Linked DNA regions of Homo sapiens. The protein of the gene in region 1 interacts with the protein of each later gene in a pairwise test. Each region holds a gene or a part of one and is shown on either strand. Other genes may lie near its edges.

What was found.
Region 2: the proteins of BPHL (region 1) and ESRRG interact in binary tests that used the Homo sapiens proteins (3 or more experiments, as listed by UniProt).

What each region holds. Positions count from the first base shown.
Region 1 is NC_000006.12:3,127,117-3,136,346, forward strand, and holds part of BPHL (serine hydrolase BPHL isoform 1 precursor), read left to right. Parts: intron 1-125; coding exon 126-292; intron 293-1,928; coding exon 1,929-2,082; intron 2,083-9,230. UniProt on the Homo sapiens protein: Specific alpha-amino acid ester serine hydrolase that prefers small, hydrophobic, and aromatic side chains and does not have a stringent requirement for the leaving group other than preferring a primary alcohol.
Region 2 is NC_000001.11:216,670,628-216,679,857, reverse strand, and holds part of ESRRG (estrogen-related receptor gamma), read left to right. Parts: intron 1-2,366; coding exon 2,367-2,782; intron 2,783-9,230. UniProt on the Homo sapiens protein: Orphan receptor that acts as a transcription activator in the absence of bound ligand. Binds specifically to an estrogen response element and activates reporter genes controlled by estrogen response elements.

The DNA.
Region 1 (9,230 bases):
ATTACATTCTGACCACTTTGAGTAGAAACTACTTTGCTTTTAAGATTGTTATTGCTTCTGTTTTCACTGTAATGTGTTTGATAGTGAAAGCGATCACCTGAGGGTAACCAAGTGGCTGTTTTTAGGAAGTGGAGAGACTGATTTTGGACCTCAGCTCAAGAACCTCAATAAGAAGCTCTTCACGGTGGTCGCCTGGGATCCTCGAGGCTATGGACATTCCAGGCCCCCAGATCGCGATTTCCCAGCAGACTTTTTTGAAAGGGATGCAAAAGATGCTGTTGATTTGATGAAGGTAGGTCTCTGAGGGAAGGGCCAGGGGAGGAAGGGTGGCTGGGCCTGTCTTCATTTATTTTGTTTAAATTTTGTTGTTATATTTTTCTACAAAATAATACCATGTGATTGCTATAGAAAACCCCAAGAGTTCAAATAGGTATAAAGAAGAAAGTAGAAATAGCCCACAGTCCAGCTCTCTAGAGACACTACCAAATCTTGGCGGCTCTGCTTTCTGGCCAGTCTTATTACATCACAAACGCAGTTTCATATTGATGGCATCGTGCTACACCTAACGTTTTTCTAACTTACTATTTTTGTTGAACAATTTTTCAAGGAAATAACTTTCATGTCAATAAATATGCATTTATACTAGTTGTATGATAGGCACATATTATTCCATTGTATGGATGTACTGTATCTTATTTCACCAATTTTCTTTTTTTTTTTTTGAGACAGAGTGTTGCTCTGTCACCCAGGCTGGAGTGCGGTGGCGCAATCTTGGCTCACTGCAACCTCTGCCTCCCGGGTTCAAACGATTCTCCTGCCTCAGCCTCCTGAGTAGCTGGGATTACAGGCACATGCCACTATGCCCAGCTAATTTTTGTATTTTTAGTAGAGACAGGGTTTCATCGCATTAGTCCGGATGGTCTCGATCTCCTGACCTCATGATCCACCCACCTTGGCCTCCCAAAGTGCTGGGATTACAGGCATGAGCCACCACACCTGGCCTATTTCACCAGTTTTCTAATAGTAGATAATTAACTTAATTTTTAAGTTGCCTTTTTCTGCTGTTATAAATAGCAGGCAGTGAACATTCTGTTGCTCGTGGGCATTTTCATTTTTTTGCCACTATAAACAGTATTGTTGTGGACATCCTGGACTGAGCTCCTGGCACACAGGGAGAATTTCATACACATTTAGGAGACAATTTGCTAGGTGATGGAAGTTCCAGATGTTCATTTTGCAGGATAGTGCCACAGTAGTTACACCATTTTATGGTCCGGGCAGCAAATATCTTGGAGTAATATTAATTCTTTACCTTTAATTTTCCAGTCATTCCATTCTTTTTTCTTGGCGGCCTCTCTAAGATGTAATCTTTGTCCATTTTCCCTGCCAAACGCATGTCCAGACCCTCTCTGATTCACCCGCGGACTCACACAACCTCCCCATGACGCTGTTCTCTGACAGCCTGGCTCTTGCCAGTTCTTCCCACAGTTGCTTTACCAGATACCCTGCTTCACTCCATCCAGCAGAGCTCAGGGTCCCCTCTCTGATCTACAGAACTGTTCTCAAGGTCCTTGCTCAGGCATGCATATGCACACACGTGCACACGCATACACACGTATGCTGTATTTGTCATATTTAAGTACTTGGTCTCCATTGATTCTAGTTCCTTGAGCTTTTTATCCAACCAGAAGATGTAGTTCCCTCCTAATTCAAACCCATACCGTATGCTCAGGTTTTTGTGACAATTTCCACTAAAAGTAATTAAGAGAAAACATGATGTCATCAAATGGTGGACTCTAGGGTTTTTCTTTTCTGACTAATTGATACTCCAGCCTCACACCTGTATTGATTCTGATAATTAGTGATTCAGTTTCTTTTAACAGAGAGGAGCAATAACCCGTGCCGTGCATTTTGTCGTATGATCATAGGCGCTGAAGTTTAAGAAGGTTTCTCTGCTGGGGTGGAGTGATGGGGGCATAACCGCACTCATTGCTGCTGCAAAATATCCATCTTACATCCACAAGATGGTGATCTGGGGCGCCAACGCCTACGTCACTGACGAAGACAGCATGATATATGAGGGTAGGTTCTGCGAAGGGGAGATGCCGGGACGGCAGATCCTTCCCCTCTCTCCGCATCTCATCTCTTATTGTGGGATATGTTGACAAGACACATCTCTCGTGCTTCTAGTTCTCAACTCTCAGGTAGGAAGAATAACGAGTTCTCAGAAAAGTAATGCAGTTTAACCAGTCTGAGTTTTAAAGCTTTCTGTTTCCAGGAGTGAAACTTCCATGGCTCAGGAAAAGGCTAAGTAAAATCACTATTTCTATTTACTACTACTGATAATGAACTTCAGGGAAGGAGGGGGTGGTGTGAAGTGTTATTAATAATCTCATTTAAAATACTGTGAGGCCAGGCACAGTGGCTCATGCCTGTAATCCCAGCACTTTGGGAGCTCAAGGCAGAAGGATCGCTTGAGCCCAGGAGGTCGAGGCTGCAGTGAGCCATGATTGTGCCACTGCACTTTTGCCTGGGTGACAGGAGTGAGAGAGAGATGGGGGAGGAAAGAAAATAATGTTGAGTGTGGAAAAGAATCACTGGATACAAATATGAAACCTTTTATTTTGATTAAAAGAATTTCTGTGCTATTTGCATGCTTTAACGTTGTCCTTCAAGCCTGTCTTTGAGGTTTTTTTTTTTTTTTTTTGAGTTTGAGTTTCACTCTTGTTGCCTGGGCTGGAGTGCAGTCGTGCGATCTCAGCTCACCACAACCTCTTCCTCCTGGATTCAAGCGATTCTCCTGCCTCACCCTCCCAAGTAGCTGGGATTACAGGCATGTGCCACCATGCCTGGCTAATTTTGTGTTTTTTAGTAAAGACGGGGTTTCTCCATGTTGGTCAGGCTGGTTTCGAATTCCCGACCTCAGGTGATCCACCTGCCTTGGCCTCCCAAAGTGCTGGGATTACCAGCGTGAGCCCCCACGCCCAGCCTGAGGTCTTTACAGGCACTGGAATAGGGGCCAGTGAACTTCAGCCTGTGCATTACACCTAGCCTGCCTCCCACTTTTGTGCAGCCCACGTACCAATCGAGGTGGCTAGTGCTGTGAGTCACAGAGACCAAGCTGGGGTGTCCCTTTACCACCCAGCATTGCTGCCCCAGACCTGCACTGGTGGTCACTACACAGGGGTGACTGTTGGCAATGAGCAGGCACCCAGCCATGGAATTTCAGTCAGCAACTCAGGAGTTGCTTAGCCTCCAGCAAGCTGCCCCATTGAGATGACCAGGCTCTTGGGAGGAAAGAAGGGTGCACCAGGATCTAGGGGTTGCTAGGACAAGAAGTGAAACTGACCTGCGTTACCCTACTACCCCCACCTGCCAGCCTGGCCCACCAGGACCCTCTTCCTCAGGCCACTAGCTTTTTGTCCAAGTGTGAGTCTAGTGGATCCCAGATGGCCTGCCCCAGACACTTAGGACTAGGTGGGTCAGGTGTTTTCTCTCCTCATGTGTAAGTATCTACATAATGTCTTTGATTTTGCTTCTTGGCCAGCAAAACCTAAAATATTTATTTACTCTCTGGCCCTTTACATAAAAGGTGTACAGATCTCTTCGCTAGAATATCACAAGTCTAGTCTTTTTCAGCTATTCGACAATTCACGTGACTTTTAAGTACGCTACTTAGTGGCAGCGTTCTGTTGTAGAATTGTAGTTCTTCACAGTCTTTCTGTTTTTTAAATGAATATGAAGCTCTTACGGTGAGTCTGATGTGGTTGCCAGTCCTGTCTGTGCTCCTGCTTGTCCTTATTTTGCTCCTGCCTGGTATCCATCTTGTGCACAGTAGGCCATTCCGCTCTGTGAAGGGTCTGTCCCCTCCCGCGGCCTCTAGGACAGGCTGCCTTGAGTTCTTCCTCCCTCTCCTGTATCCTTAAATTCTCTCCACTGGGTCAGTCCTCTCAGCCTGCAAAAGTGGGCACAATTCTTCCTCCAGAAAGTTGCCACTCCTACCTGTGGTTACTATCTTCCCATTCTTTATTCTTTCCCACAAACTTATGGAAAGAGCCACCTGCATTCCCTGCTTCTAGGGATCCTCCTTTCCTTCCTTCTTTAGTCCATTCTGCCCCATCTCCCTCTCTGGCCCATTCTAGCCCCCTCTACTGAAACTCTCCTCACTGACCCCTGCCCACTTGTTCTTTCCCATAATCACTATCTCAGTTCATGGCCTGCAGATGACCCGGCATCCAGGCAGAGTCCCAGATGCATCCCTCGAGGGCCCAGTCCTCCTCTGCCCTCTTCATTTGCCCACCTTGCCCTGTTCATTGAACTGTGATGCTTTCTGTTGTTACATAATACCCCTCCAGTTATCCTCACCTCTCTTCTTTCCCCACATTCTCCTGGTTTAGGCCGCTAGCTTCATATGGTAGTTTGTTCTCCATAGGAGAGTTTCCTTTGTAAGGCAAAAATCTAATCACTTAATTCCACTAGAGGACTTAAAATCCTTCACTAACCAGCAAAGTCCGTGCAGTTTGGCTGGCCCCTCCTGCCAGCCCCTCCCCGGACATTCTCCCATCTCCCCTTTCTCCTCATCCTTCCGGTGCCTCTCCCACGTGGGATAAATGGCCATTCCTGGAACAAGCTTCCCCCTCATGCCTCTTCGCCTTTGCAACTGCTGCTGTGCCAGCTTGCACCAGCCTTCCCCTCAGCCACATCCTCTGCCAGGGCATATTCACCCCTGACACAGCTCCTTGGGCCTCCGCGTCTGGGATGGCGTCCCGGAGCCCTGAGACCTGGCGGTGCTCTCCCTCCTGGACCCCGCCACACCTTGCACGTGCCTGTGTCACGGCCCTTCAACCCCGGGCACTGTCAGCACTTACTCCCTTGCCTCGGTCACCGCAGTGGGAACTCACTGTGTGCAGTTGCTCTGACTTTCCTTTCTTGATGAAAGCAAGAGTCTCTCAGTAGCGCAGCACTCTTTACTCTCTGACGTCTCGCTACTTCCCCTCCTGGCTACTCTTTCTTTTTCATCCCCCATCCTCTCCTAACTTGTGTCAAGATGGCTGTGGCCCGCCAGTGTGCTAGAGACCAAGCCCCCACCACGCACCTCCTCTTGGCTCCTTGGTCATTCTGCAGCGTTTGAGAACATGCTCATGATGTGTGCGCCATTGGTTACACCCCTCTTCTTGAAGCTTTCTCTGTCTGGAAGTTCTTGCCACCGTGTTCTCCCGACTTCCCTCCTCTCTCAGGCTGTTCCCTGGCTGACACGTGCCTGCTCCCCCATGTGGGCCACAGTGTTGGGGTCCTCCAGGCGTCACCCTCAGTGCTCTGCTCCCCTCTTACCCTCACACCTCACACCTGAGTAGCTTCACTCAGCTCCTTGCTCCACCTAACTCCCAAACCCCACATGTTCGACTGTTGTTTTTTTTTAAGAGACAAATTCTCACTGGGTGTGGTGGCTCACACCTGTAATCCCAGCACTTTGGGAGGCTGAGGCAGGAGGATCACTTGAGCCCAGGAGTTCAAGACCAGCCTGGGCAACGTAGCAAGACCCCGTGTCTACAAAAAAATACAAAACGTAGTCAGGTGTGGTGGCATGTGCCTGTAGTCCCAGCCATTTGGGAGGCTGAGGTGGAGGATCACCTGAGCCGGGGAGGTTGAGGCTGCCGTGATCTGTGATTACACCACTGCACTGTAGCTTGGGTGACAGAGGCGAGACCCTGTCCCAACAACAGCAACAACAACAACCAAAAGAAAAAAACAGAAAGAAAAGAAAAAGACGAGTTCTCACTATGTTGCCTTATTCAACTTTTTATTCAATTTTCTTATCTGGTTGTCTCACACCTACTTTAAATTCAGTCTGTCTAATACTGAATTCATGATCTTCTCTCTAGGCCTGTCCCTTCTGCTAAATTTCTTGTCATTATAAATAATACTCTTTCTCCCTGAAAATAATATTTTAATTACTATTTATTGAGTGCCTGCCGTGAGCTAAAGTCTTTAACAACGTGATATCCATGTAAGGTCTCTGATTCTCAGCCTGCTTGTCAAGTGAAAAACGGGGGCTCACAAAAGTGAGGAAACCTTCCAGACCACATCCCCCACACTGCGGCCTGCAGCTCACTGCACTCTTCTCTTCTGCTGGGCTCTGAGTGGCCCCATCTTGCCCTACCCCTCTCTCCCTCCCACCAGGCTCCCGCCAGCCTCGTTGGTCCCGTCTGGGCTGATTCTGTGCCTCTCCAACCGGTCCAGGTCCTTGCCTCCTACCAGTCTGCCTTCCATGATGCTCTGATAGCAATTCAGCAATATGTGAATCTCATGGTGTCTTACTTTAAGCCTTCCAGGACTCCCCACAACTTTCCTGATAAAGTTCAGGCTCCTTCACTTTGCTCACGGAATGAGTGGCCCGGCCTCTGCCTCTCCAGGTCCCCTCCCCCCACTTTCCCCTCCCAACCACCAGTGTCCAGCCATCCGAGACCACCTGGGTCCCTGCAGCAGGTGGCGGGCTCCTGCCTCCTTGTGTGGGCCCTTCCCGCTCCCTTCCCACTCCTTCACTTGTTTGCTGACTTCTCTTCTCCCAGAATGGCCCAAGCATTCCATCTTCTAGGAAGCCCTCACCGCCGCCACCCCGTGTCCACTGCCCGTGTGAGCACACAGGCCACTCTGCTACAGATGGACGGCTGGTTCTTGTACCCGTCTCCTGGGGTGTAGGAGCAACAGTATCTCTCTAGGGTCTAAGTCCATGAGTGAAATTGCTGAGTGTTGTGGGCAGGTAGACTACATTACAAGTGACAGATTATTTTCCAGCAAAATAAATTTACACTTCCACCAGCAATAGATGAGATTCTTAACTTTTAGCTCTTCAACAAAAACTTGAAATTCTCAGACTTCTTAATTCACTAGCCAATCAAATGGGTGTAAGATATTATCTTATTGGGGTCTTAATTTGCATTTCGTATTACTAATAAGATTGAAAATCTGTGTTTATCCACCATTTGAGTTTCTTCTGTATTATATCCATGTATTTTTATTGGTGAAAAGTTTTTTGTTATGTAATAATTGATACACACAATACAGTATGTTTGGGTATACAGTATGAAATGTAACAACAAAACGACCCCGCCGCTGTCCACCCAACTCAGCACCAGAACAGTTTCAATGTTATCCCAGTGTTACTCTAATCCTAGTCAGTAACCCCTTTTAGGGTAACTGTGTTGCAAGCACCTCTTCACAGTGGGTGGCTTTTGCCTTTTTCTTTATGGGCAGAACTACTTAATGTAAGGAAATGCCACAGTGTTTTGTTTTTCTTTCCTTTTTCTTTTTCTTTTCTTTCCTTTTTTTTTTTTTTTTTTGAGACAGGGTCTCCACTATTGCCCAGGCTGGAGTGCAGTGGCACCATCTCAGCTCACTGCAGCCTGCTTGCTCAACATCAAACTATCCTTCTGCCTCAGCCTCCCAAGTAGCTGGCACTACAGGCGTGTGCCACCGCACCTGGCTAATTTTTTTTTTTTTTTTTTTTGAGACGGAGTCTCGCTCTGTCACCCAGGCTGCGCAGTGGCGTGATCTCGGCTCACTGCAAACTCCGCCTCCTGTGTTCACGCCATTCTCCTGCCTCAACCTCCCGAGTAGCTGGGAATACAGGCGCCTGCCACCACGCCCGGCTATTTTTTTGTATTTTTAGTAGAGACGGGGTTTCACCGTGTTATCCAGGATGGTCTCGATCTCCTGACCTCGTGATCCGCCTGCCTCGGCCTCCCAAAGTGCTGGGATTACAGGCATGAACCACCGCGCCTGGCCAATTTTTGTATTTTTTGTAGAGACGGGGTTCCGCCACATTGCCCAGGCTGGTCTTGAACTCCTGGACTTAAGTAATCCACCCACCTCAACCTTCCGAAGTGCTGGGATTACAGGTGTGAGCCACCATGCCGCCCGGCCTCACAATGTTTTATTTTCTCATTGGTTTGGCTGGTTTTGTTTGATTTTAGATCCACCAACATGTTTGCCCATTTGTTTACTCACCTGTTCTTTCTTCTCAAATGTTCCTTCTAAAAGCATTTATCTTCTCTTCTTCCTGAAGTTATTTTTAGAAGTTATTTAAGGGCAGCCTGTTAATGGTCAACTCAGTTTTTACCAACAAGTGTCTTTTCTTTCATCCACCTTTTCTGTAAGTCTGTTTAGCTGAGTGTGGAAATGGAAGTGGAAAATCATTGTCTCCCCCATTCTGCAGTCTTCTGCCTTCCATCCTTGCTGTTGAGAAGTTTCCTGTCCGTCTACGTGGTTCCTGCTTCGGAGTGATGTGTCTTAACTCTCTGGCTGTTTTTCAGATTTTCTCCTTACCTTTGATATATTGCTGTTTTAATATATTCTGTCCAAATGCAGATTTCATTTTACTTGTCCTGTTTGGAATACATTGCGTTTTTGTTTATGGATTCTTTGATTCATTCTGAAAAACTCTCCCACCCATTATTTCTTCAAATAGGCATCTCGTTCATTCTTATTCTCTTCTTCTGAGACGAGCGGACTTTTGTAAACCTCGTCTTTCCATCTTCCTTATCTCTTCTGCATCGTCGTGTCTCTCTGCGTGGTGTTCTGCATAATTTCTTAAGATTTGTCTTCCAATTTTCTAGTTTTTTTATTAACTTTATAAAAATCCTGTTTGTTTTGTGACCTTTGGTTAGGAGCTAATATTTACTCACTCTTAATCTGAAAATAAACAAAGCAGTGAGCATAAATCGAGAGCGCTTTCCTTCCGGGAAGATTTGCATTTGTTGCTCTTGGGAACCACAGGATCATACCAGGTTGGGGCCATTTTTAGCTCAGCTTGATCCAGGAGTCTCAGGTTGGGCCCCGGCCTGCCTGCGAACACTGCGTCTCCACCCAGAGCAGGCCTGCCTTTGGAGCTGGCTTACTTCCTTTGCTGTATTTTCAGGGTTCTGTTTCTCATGTGCAGACACACTCATACACACTCACACCCCGGTTTCCATTAACCACTGCAACTTCAGCAATGCCACAGAATTCTGTTTTGTGAAAGATCTAGTTATTCCCCTGCAAGAAGGCCTTTCAGAGGGTATGGTCTGCCATACGGCCAAAAGTAGAAGCATGTGCAGGGACGTTTTGCTAGCCATCTTCACACTGTCTTGCTTGCTTCTCTCTCCCTTACCCTCCGCCCCCAAATGTTTTCTTCTTCCTACATCTTCTCCCCACCTCTTCAGGCTGTCTCCACGTACCTCATTCAAGTCTTT
Region 2 (9,230 bases), on another chromosome or scaffold:
AATAACTGATCCATAAATGGGAGGGCAATTTCTGGCCTTGTTCTTTAAATCAAGAGTTCTGCAAATTTTGCAAGTCCATGAGGAAGAGCCTGAAAAAAAGAAAATTGGGGTGAAAGTGACCATGGAAGATACAGGAAAAGAGAGAGAGGGAAAAAAAATTTAAAAAGAGGGTCTGAAGATCAAGCAGCCCCAAGCAACTCTCCTCTGGATAAAAAAAAAAAAAAGAAAAAAAAAATTCCAAATTAAAAAACGGTGCCTTGTAGGCAGATGGTGAAAGAGTTAATTGTCATAGCTGTGGGAAATTCAGTGCTGGAGAGAGGAAAGGGGAGCAAGCATGGTTTAGTACCCTAAAAACTTCTAACTCTAGTCTAAGATCATAATGTATGTGCCCACAGTCCAGTAATTATAAGGTAATAAGTGAAGTGGTGGTGTAAGTGCTCTAAATTAAAAGGAATTCACAGGGCTGCTGTAAGTCAGTGCCGACCCGCTTTCTTTCAAACGATGACTTGAGGAAAGTGCTTAGCCCAGAGTGCTAAGGAGACAAGGAGAGCGATCTATTAATTACAACGTTCATTAACAGTGACGGGTACAAGGCAGCAGATGCAGAAGAGAGAGGACGCCGTAGTTCAGGCTGGCGAGGGGGATATTTTTTTCTTTCGCTAGTTCTTGAGGAAAGGACAACACAAGTGGGTGGGCGAAAGTACGAAGATATTTTCGTGGCTTTCGCCTTCCTATTTGCTTTCTTCACATCCTGATACTGCTTGACTTCAGAAAGCTGTGCAAGATTTCTCAAAGTGAAATATCTTTGGTAAGAGGCAAATCTTGCCTCAACGCTTTGCTCCTGAGACCGCCTTCTTGGAACAGTTAAGTGAAACTTCCTGCCAGAAAAGTTCCATATTTTTCTTCATTTTGAAGTAACAGAACAATGGAGGACCTGGAGGAGGGCATGAAATTTGTGCAATGATCAAATATCATTAGATTTATAGTGAAAGAGATAATTGCATCCCTTTGGTTATCCTGTGATGAGTCCCCCAAATTCTAGTGAATGACCATTACCCAGAGGGATTCCCATAAATCAATTTTCCACTGGGAGGCAATTATCTAAGTCCCTTTCTTGACTGTCACCTCTTCTTTCTGTAGTGGGCTCTCAGAAGCTTCTTAGACATTTTGCTAAACGAGGTTTTGCACAATGGCTAAATGAAAAGAAAATAGGACCAATTATATCTTTTCATCTAATTACCTTTCCAGAAATTCGGTCACTTGTGAGAACAACAAAGAAAAAGGGATGAAGTGTTTCTTCTAGATAAGAGAAACAGTGTGTCAGATTAGATGTTTCATCATTTTTCCTTTTAGGAGGTATAATGTTAAATGGCAAAAAGAAGTGGGGGAAGGACCATCACAAATATATTTTTTAGGACAAAATATGCTACATTTCTACTTTACTGAATGTAAATATAACATCAGATTTTATAGTATCAGATAATATACATATAATATCAGATTTGTGGACTTACAGGTATACTGAAGGCTCAAATGGCTTTTACTGATTCATCTCTTAAATAATGGCAAATCACACATAAGAAACACATGCACGTATTTATTAATGAATGTTGGTGATGAGTCACTAAGTTTTGCAGGCTCTAGGAATAATCTTTAAATATTGGCTGGAATTTTATACTTGATGTCTTTCTATATTGCCAAATGGCTATGAAATAGAGCAATTTAAATAAAGAAACAAAGTGATTGAGGATATATTCCCTATGTGTTTTAGTCAGATCAATAAGACACAGTTATGCTTATGGAAGCGTGCTGACAAACAGTAATTACAGAGCTGAGGATCATCTGTTCAGTCTTGAAAATAAAAGTTTTATTCTGCTCATAATAAAATGATTGCAGCATCAGAATGAGGAAGGAAAGGTAGAATGAGGATAAATACAATTTTAGAAATGGTATAGACTTTGCAAATCACCACCTCTTCCATTGATAAATTTAGAATCTAGAGTTGAGTTAGATATTGACACTGGTTCTCCAAGAGAAAGGTAAAATAAAAGCAATCGGACTCTTTAGAGCTTTTGTTTATGGCCTGTCTGGGCCCTTTGTTGTAACCCTGTCATGCCCTTATGCTGATTACCTTCTTGTAGAACAAGAAGTATTGACTAGAGAATGAATGATGTGTAGTCCCTAGCCCTTAGGAAACTCTCTCAAAGAGCAATGTCTTTAACATATGAATTCTGTTTTTTTCCTCCTTTTACCTTTCCCTTTCCCTTTCTCTATTTTTCACCATCTCTTTTGTTTCTACCTCTTTTGGTCTCTGTGCTTGACACTCTCTCCTCTTTCTGTCTCTCTTTGTATCTCCTCAATCTCAGGCTTCTCTGCAGAATGTCAAACAAAGATCGACACATTGATTCCAGCTGTTCGTCCTTCATCAAGACGGAACCTTCCAGCCCAGCCTCCCTGACGGACAGCGTCAACCACCACAGCCCTGGTGGCTCTTCAGACGCCAGTGGGAGCTACAGTTCAACCATGAATGGCCATCAGAACGGACTTGACTCGCCACCTCTCTACCCTTCTGCTCCTATCCTGGGAGGTAGTGGGCCTGTCAGGAAACTGTATGATGACTGCTCCAGCACCATTGTTGAAGATCCCCAGACCAAGTGTGAATACATGCTCAACTCGATGCCCAAGAGACTGTGTTTAGTGTGTGGTGACATCGCTTCTGGGTACCACTATGGGGTAGCATCATGTGAAGCCTGCAAGGCATTCTTCAAGAGGACAATTCAAGGTTAGTGTCGGACCTGGGAATACTCTCCCCACTTCCAACCTCACATGATGGGTTTTTGTTTTTCCTTATTCTTATTCTCATAAGTCAAGTATCATAGTTTTAATTCTCTCTTGAGTAGAAAATGGAAATAGATTACAATTGATAGTGGAAGATTTATAGAATAAAATCCCCCCAGATATACTCCATATCTATTAATTTTCCTCTTACTGTTAAGCTTTAATGGTGCAAGGATAATAAACTTTGGGTAGAGTTTACAAGAGCATAGTTATTATTAGAGCAATGTGGGTCTATATAGCAACTGTACAAATGCACATTGGACTAACAGTGTTTTTGACCCCTTTGGATCTTCTTACAGATGCATGGAAATAATAAATACTTTAGACCAGTGATTTCCAAACTTGAGTGTGCATTAAAATCATCTGGAAATCTTGTTAAAATGCAGATTCCTGGGTCCTACCTCCAGAATTTCTGATTCATTAGATCTGGGGTGGGGGCCTGCCTGAGATTGTATATTTTTAACAAATTTTCAGGTAATGCTGATGATGCTGCCGGTCCAGGGACCAATTTTAAGAATCACTGCTCTAGACAAATTTAATTACCTACTCATCTTTCTTTTTTCCTTATGGTTGGATATACTTTTTCTAACTTTTAAATGAATTTATATTAAAAAAAACCTTCCAAATTATACCAATAAAATGGCATTGAATGATAAAATATACCTCCAACATATATAAGTGATATATACCCCAAACTTCATAGATTTCAGATTTATAAATAACATTATTTCCGCCATACAGTGTAGAAAAATAGGACTGAAATTTGTTTATGCCCTTTTAAACTGGTAATCTACAGATCTAGAATTCAGTTCATGAAAAAGCTATAGATATATATTCTGGCAAAAAAATTAGATTTCACGTTTTTAGGTCTCTTGTAATTCACTTTTGAAGAAAATAGGGGAAGAAAAAAATATATTTTGAGGATCCACAGCACACCAATGGTTCTGCTCAGTGGTTTACAAAATGTGTCTTCCTAACAACCAGTTATGGACACAAAGTCTATCTTCCCACATATCAGTGGTTCTCAAGCTTGCCAGCTCATTGGAATCAGTGGAAGACTTAAAAAAACATGCTGATGTCAGGGCTCATGTCCCCAAATTCTGAATTAATTGGTCTTGGGTACAGCCAGGGAAAGGGGGGTTTTTGAAAGCTTCCTAGGTGATGCTTAATGTAAAGGCAAAGTTAAGAAACACTGCACTGTACTGTGTTGTATTATTTGCCAACAGTTCTCAAAGTGCAGTGGCTGTACCAGCAGTACCAGCATCATCTGGGAAAATGTAAGAAATGCAAGTTCCCAGGCCCCATCCTGTATTAACTCAAACAGAATCTCTGAGGGTGGGCCTAGCAATCTGCATTTTACCAACCCTCTGGGTAATCCTGATGCTAATTCAAATTTAGACCCCCTGCTCTAGACCATGCTACTGCTGATTCACCACTGACCATAGACCATCATCATCTAATGGCCCCTTGCTGGACAGAACTGAAACTAATTTATGTGGAGCCTTCATAATTTTGTGACGTACTAGTTTTCAAAGTACAAAAGAAGTAATGTTTGTTAAGTGCTAATCCTTTTAAATATTTTCACAAAACATGATTCTGAAACCCTTTATGTGTACATAGAGCAGTCTCCCACCTTCTCCCCCTTTTTTTTTTCTTTTTGAGGCAGATTTTTACTCTTGTGGCCCAGGCTAGAGGGCAATGGCATGATCTCGGCTCACTGCAACCTACATCTCCTGGGTTCAAGTGATTCTCTTGCCTCAGCTTCCCAAGTAGCTGGGATTACAGGCATGCACCAACACGCTTCTCTAATTTTGTATTTTTAGTAGAGACAAGGTTTCACCACATTGGCCAGGCTGGTCTCGAACTCCCGACCTCACGTGATCCACCCGCCTCAGCCTCCCAAAGTGCTGGGATTACAGGCATGAGCCACCGTGCCCGGCCCACCTTCCCTTTTAAGAGCATCTGGAAATTCAACTCTTCTTCATCAGTTGCACTGAATATTTTAGTGACAATCCTTACTTGTACTGGCTCTCCCTTGCTTTTTTGTTGTCTGTTACATAACTTCCTTGATCTGTGGCTGATGAGAACACAATCAAAATGTTTACTTAGTCAGGTGCAGTGGCTCATGCCTGTAATCCCACCACTTTGGGAGGCTGAGGCTGGAGGATCCCTTAAGGCCAAAAGTTCAAGAGATTAATCTGGGCAACAAAGTGAGAACCCTGTCTCTATAAAAAATTTACAAATTAGTTGAGCATGGTGGCATGCACCTGTAGTCGTGGCTACTGGAAAGGTTGAGGCAGAAGGATTGCTTGAGCCCAGGAATTGGAGGTTGCAGTGAGCCATGATTGCACTCCAGCCTGGGGTGACAGAGCTAGACACAGTCTCAAAAAAAAAAAAAAAAAAAGTTTACCCAAAGCACAATTTCTCAAGACATCATACTCTTACATAGTAGATGAGATACTTAATCCTAATCTTTTCATAGCCTTTCATAGTTTTAAATGAAGAGCACAAAACCAAGTTAGTATGCAGTACATATGAATGTCCTAAACATCTTCATAGCTGTATCTTTATAATTTCTGGCTCATCGTTGCTATATTTATTGATATTTTCTTACAAAAATCTTTCATTTACTGGATTTTTATTTTCTTTATCCTCATCTATAAATTGAAGGCATTAACCTCAGAATACTTAAGTTTAAAATGAAATATAAAATCACATGGAAAGCGAGAAAGCTAAAAACAATGGTCTGTGCACAAGGCTTTTCATCACTTCTGAGCATTTGAGAAATCTCTTCAGTCTATTTGGTAACACTACAAAACTTGAGAATGAAAGCACACCTCAAATCTTTGGGTGTTTACCAGCCATTGTTCCACAGTGTTATAATCCTTATGGTTACAAAGTATATACAATTCAAACTGTTATTAATTTGATTTTGTTAACTCAGTTTACACAGCTCTGAATTTTAACTACACAAAGATAAGCAAATATTTTGGGATAAATTCATGAGCACTGAGTGCGCTGATATAAGCAAGAGGTTCTCAGTGTGAAAACCACTCCCATTTATTCAACGAATATTTACTGAGAACCTGTGATTCAGACAGCAGGCTGGTTGGAGTGTCCTCTTATCCACATTTTATTAAAGCTTTGTTCCCAAAGGTTGTGGATTGAGATGAATTCCTCTAACAAATGTCTCCTGCCTTGAGGAAGTAACAATTTTTAGGGTTGAGGGGATTAAACCCTCGAGTCTTCGGTATGTTTTGTAAAGATAGAATAACAGTGTGAAAAAATTTCCTAATACATGTCTCAAAACATTTTATAGGTTAGACATTAATAGCTCTGCAATAGTTATTTACTGAGCAATAATTAGAATAGAGCAATTGGAATTCTATGCATGATTATTCTTTAGGATGCTGAAATGCTACCAAAAGCTTAACAGAGCAAAGCACAGGGTGATTCTTGGCATTGATGTATGTGCTCAGTTTTACTCCGTATTGGAGAGAGCAAGTTTCAAGGATTTTGAGCAGGAGACAGAGATGTCACTGTCCAGATTAGCACTCTGGACTTGCCCACCTGGCTGTGCTTGTAGCTGGCAGCTGCGCAGCACTTGGTGAGGCTACCCTGCTAGCTACATCATCAGACATCACACTGTGGTGCTCACTTAGCCCCAAAAAGGCAGTGAGGCAAATAAAGGGATTAAATTGTGAAAGTATAATGTAATAATTAGAGCAGTAATTGTAAGGAAGATTGGAACGGCCCCTCCTTTCTGTGGCCAAATACGGTAGTGATAGCAGTTGAACTCCAAAGATGTTGAGTGTGGCCCAGACTCTTATTCCAATGCTGAAGCTGCCTTAGAGTTCATTCTCATGCCTTCAGACAGCATTGCAGCCAAACCACCCTTAACAGATCGTAGTCTCTCCCTCCCCTCCATTAAAGCTCTCCAAGGAAAAGGAAGAGATTATGTAACTCCCCTTGACAACAAGCCTTGCTAGACTAGAGCCCCAATGGACAGGCCGTTACATAAATGTGACTCCTGCCTCACCAGGGCCTGGTTCTACTCTCATTGACTTAAGGGACGTGTGCATCCATAGGCATTTTCATGTACACCATCATCTGTTAAGATCTTTCCTTTTTAATATATCTTCTTATTATTTTTGAGACAGGGTCTCACTGTGTTGCCCAGGCTGTTGTACAGTGATGTGATCTTGGCTCACTGCAGCCTCCACCTCCTGGGCTCAAGTGATCCCTTCCCCTCAGCCTCCCAAGTAGCTGGAAAACAGGCATGCACTACCATGCCTACCTAATTTTTCACTCTTTTGTAGAGACGGGATCTCCCTATGTTGCCCAGGCTGGTCTCAAACTCCTAGCCTCAAATGATCCTCCTGCCTCAGCCTCCCAAAGTGCTGGGATTACAGGCATGAGCCATCTTACTTCTTATTTTAACAATTTATTTTTAGGATTGGTTATCGAGTGTGTAATAAATATATACGTTTAAAAAGTTGGGAAAAATACTTCTTAAACTTGGCACCAAAAGAACATATATCCAGACCATATCTTGAGAAAAGTAATACAAATTGTTCTTTTCAGAGCTGAATGTGCTATTTCTGTTGTGAAAGACAATTAATCATGGATTTCAATGAAAGGTAAATAGAAAGGAATATTTTACTTGTTGACTATTTTCAAGTTATCATTGAAAAACTATTGAATTATGTCAGCATTTAGTTGGGTAGAAGCCAAAGTTTTGCTGTTTTGTTTTTGTTTTTGGCTGACCAAAATACTTTTTACAAAACTTTGACAGCTCTACCCTGTCATCCAATAGGGTTACAGTGGCAGCAGTGATTTCACGTCATTTTCTAGGCATAGTAATTTTGGGGATGTGATATTGTTATTCTTCTGATTTTTTTTCCAATTCCAATTTTGGCCTTAATTCATAAATGATTGGAGTCTGCCTTCTTTCCCTCCTTCCTTCCTTCCTTCTTTCTTTCCTTCCTTCCTTCTTTTCTTTTCTTTTTTTTTGGGAACTTCTCATTAAGAGTTTCCCCTAGACTCTTGTTAAGGAGGCAAGAGAAGGAAAACATCCTTATACCCAAGTATAAGTAATACCCAAGTATTACATATTTCATTATTTAATAGACAAAACACTAGCCTCCTGAAGTTTTTATGTCCATATAATAAAGAAAATAATTTTATAAATAGTTTTCTTTGTGTAGATAATATAGCCATTCTAACTCCTCATTATAGTGCTAGAAATAAAGTATTCTTCTTTCCCCCACATTTAAAAGGTGGGAAATTGTATATTTAAAAATATGAGATTTTAAAAAGATGTTCATTATAGCATCGGTTTTGGATTTATATAAAGCCAGGCCCAAGTCTCAGCCACTTACCAGCTGTGAGACCTTAACCCCTCTTTTCCTCTGTTTCCCAAGTGATGAGGGTTACATGAGAGAATGAATATCGAAGTACTTGACCCATAGTAAATGTACACTAAATTATTAACTTTGGTTGATATTGGGAATATGACTGGGATACCCAGAGGCTGGATGGTTCGTGTAATCTAGCACAGAGTTATCCTTGATGCTAAACTAGAAGGACAGGTATGTCACCTTCCAGAGCTCACAGCTGTCTCCACCCTTTAGCTATGATCGTAAACCCTCTCTCCCTGTAGCCATTTCTCACTGATGGTGCCTTTATATGATTGGAGGCATTTAGGTGAACTGTCTGGAAATTTGTTTAGTTATATTTAGCTTATCGTGCTCAATTAACTTTATTTCCCTGTGAATAAGAATGGGAAACTGCATACATCAAAAAACAAGCCTGAATTTTGGAACTTGCATAAAACATAAAATTCTCAGTTTAGCTTCACTTGTGAAATTTAGGCACTGAAGTAGTAGCATATCTTCCCTGTGTGAGGTGTGGGAGTGACCATTATGGAACTAAGTCCACTCTGAACATTGCAGGACCTAGGACAAGAGTACAGCAAGCACCCAAATACTGCATAGTATATGTAAATATGTTAATGTTATAAATCAAGATACCAAATCACTAAGTGAAATTTGTTCTAGTCTCTTATTTGACCAACTATACCTTCATAATAGCCTGGGAGACTGACTTTTTATTGGTCAGTCTTTGACTCCAAGGAACAATTTTCTGTCAGTGAGAGGCAGTGCAAGGAGAGCTGGTTCATAGCCTGCAGCCCATCCCCTTTCTTTCTCTCTCCTCTATCTCCCAATCTTGTACATAGTGTGGACACCCTTGCCCACATGTCTAAGGCCCAGTGACCCCTTCCAAACAGCTGTTCCTTGACCACGCCCAGGTCTAATGTGCACACCAGAAGGGCAGTTTAGTCCAGTCTAGCTTCCAGAGAACAGACCCAAGAGAGAGTCCCGCTCAGGCCC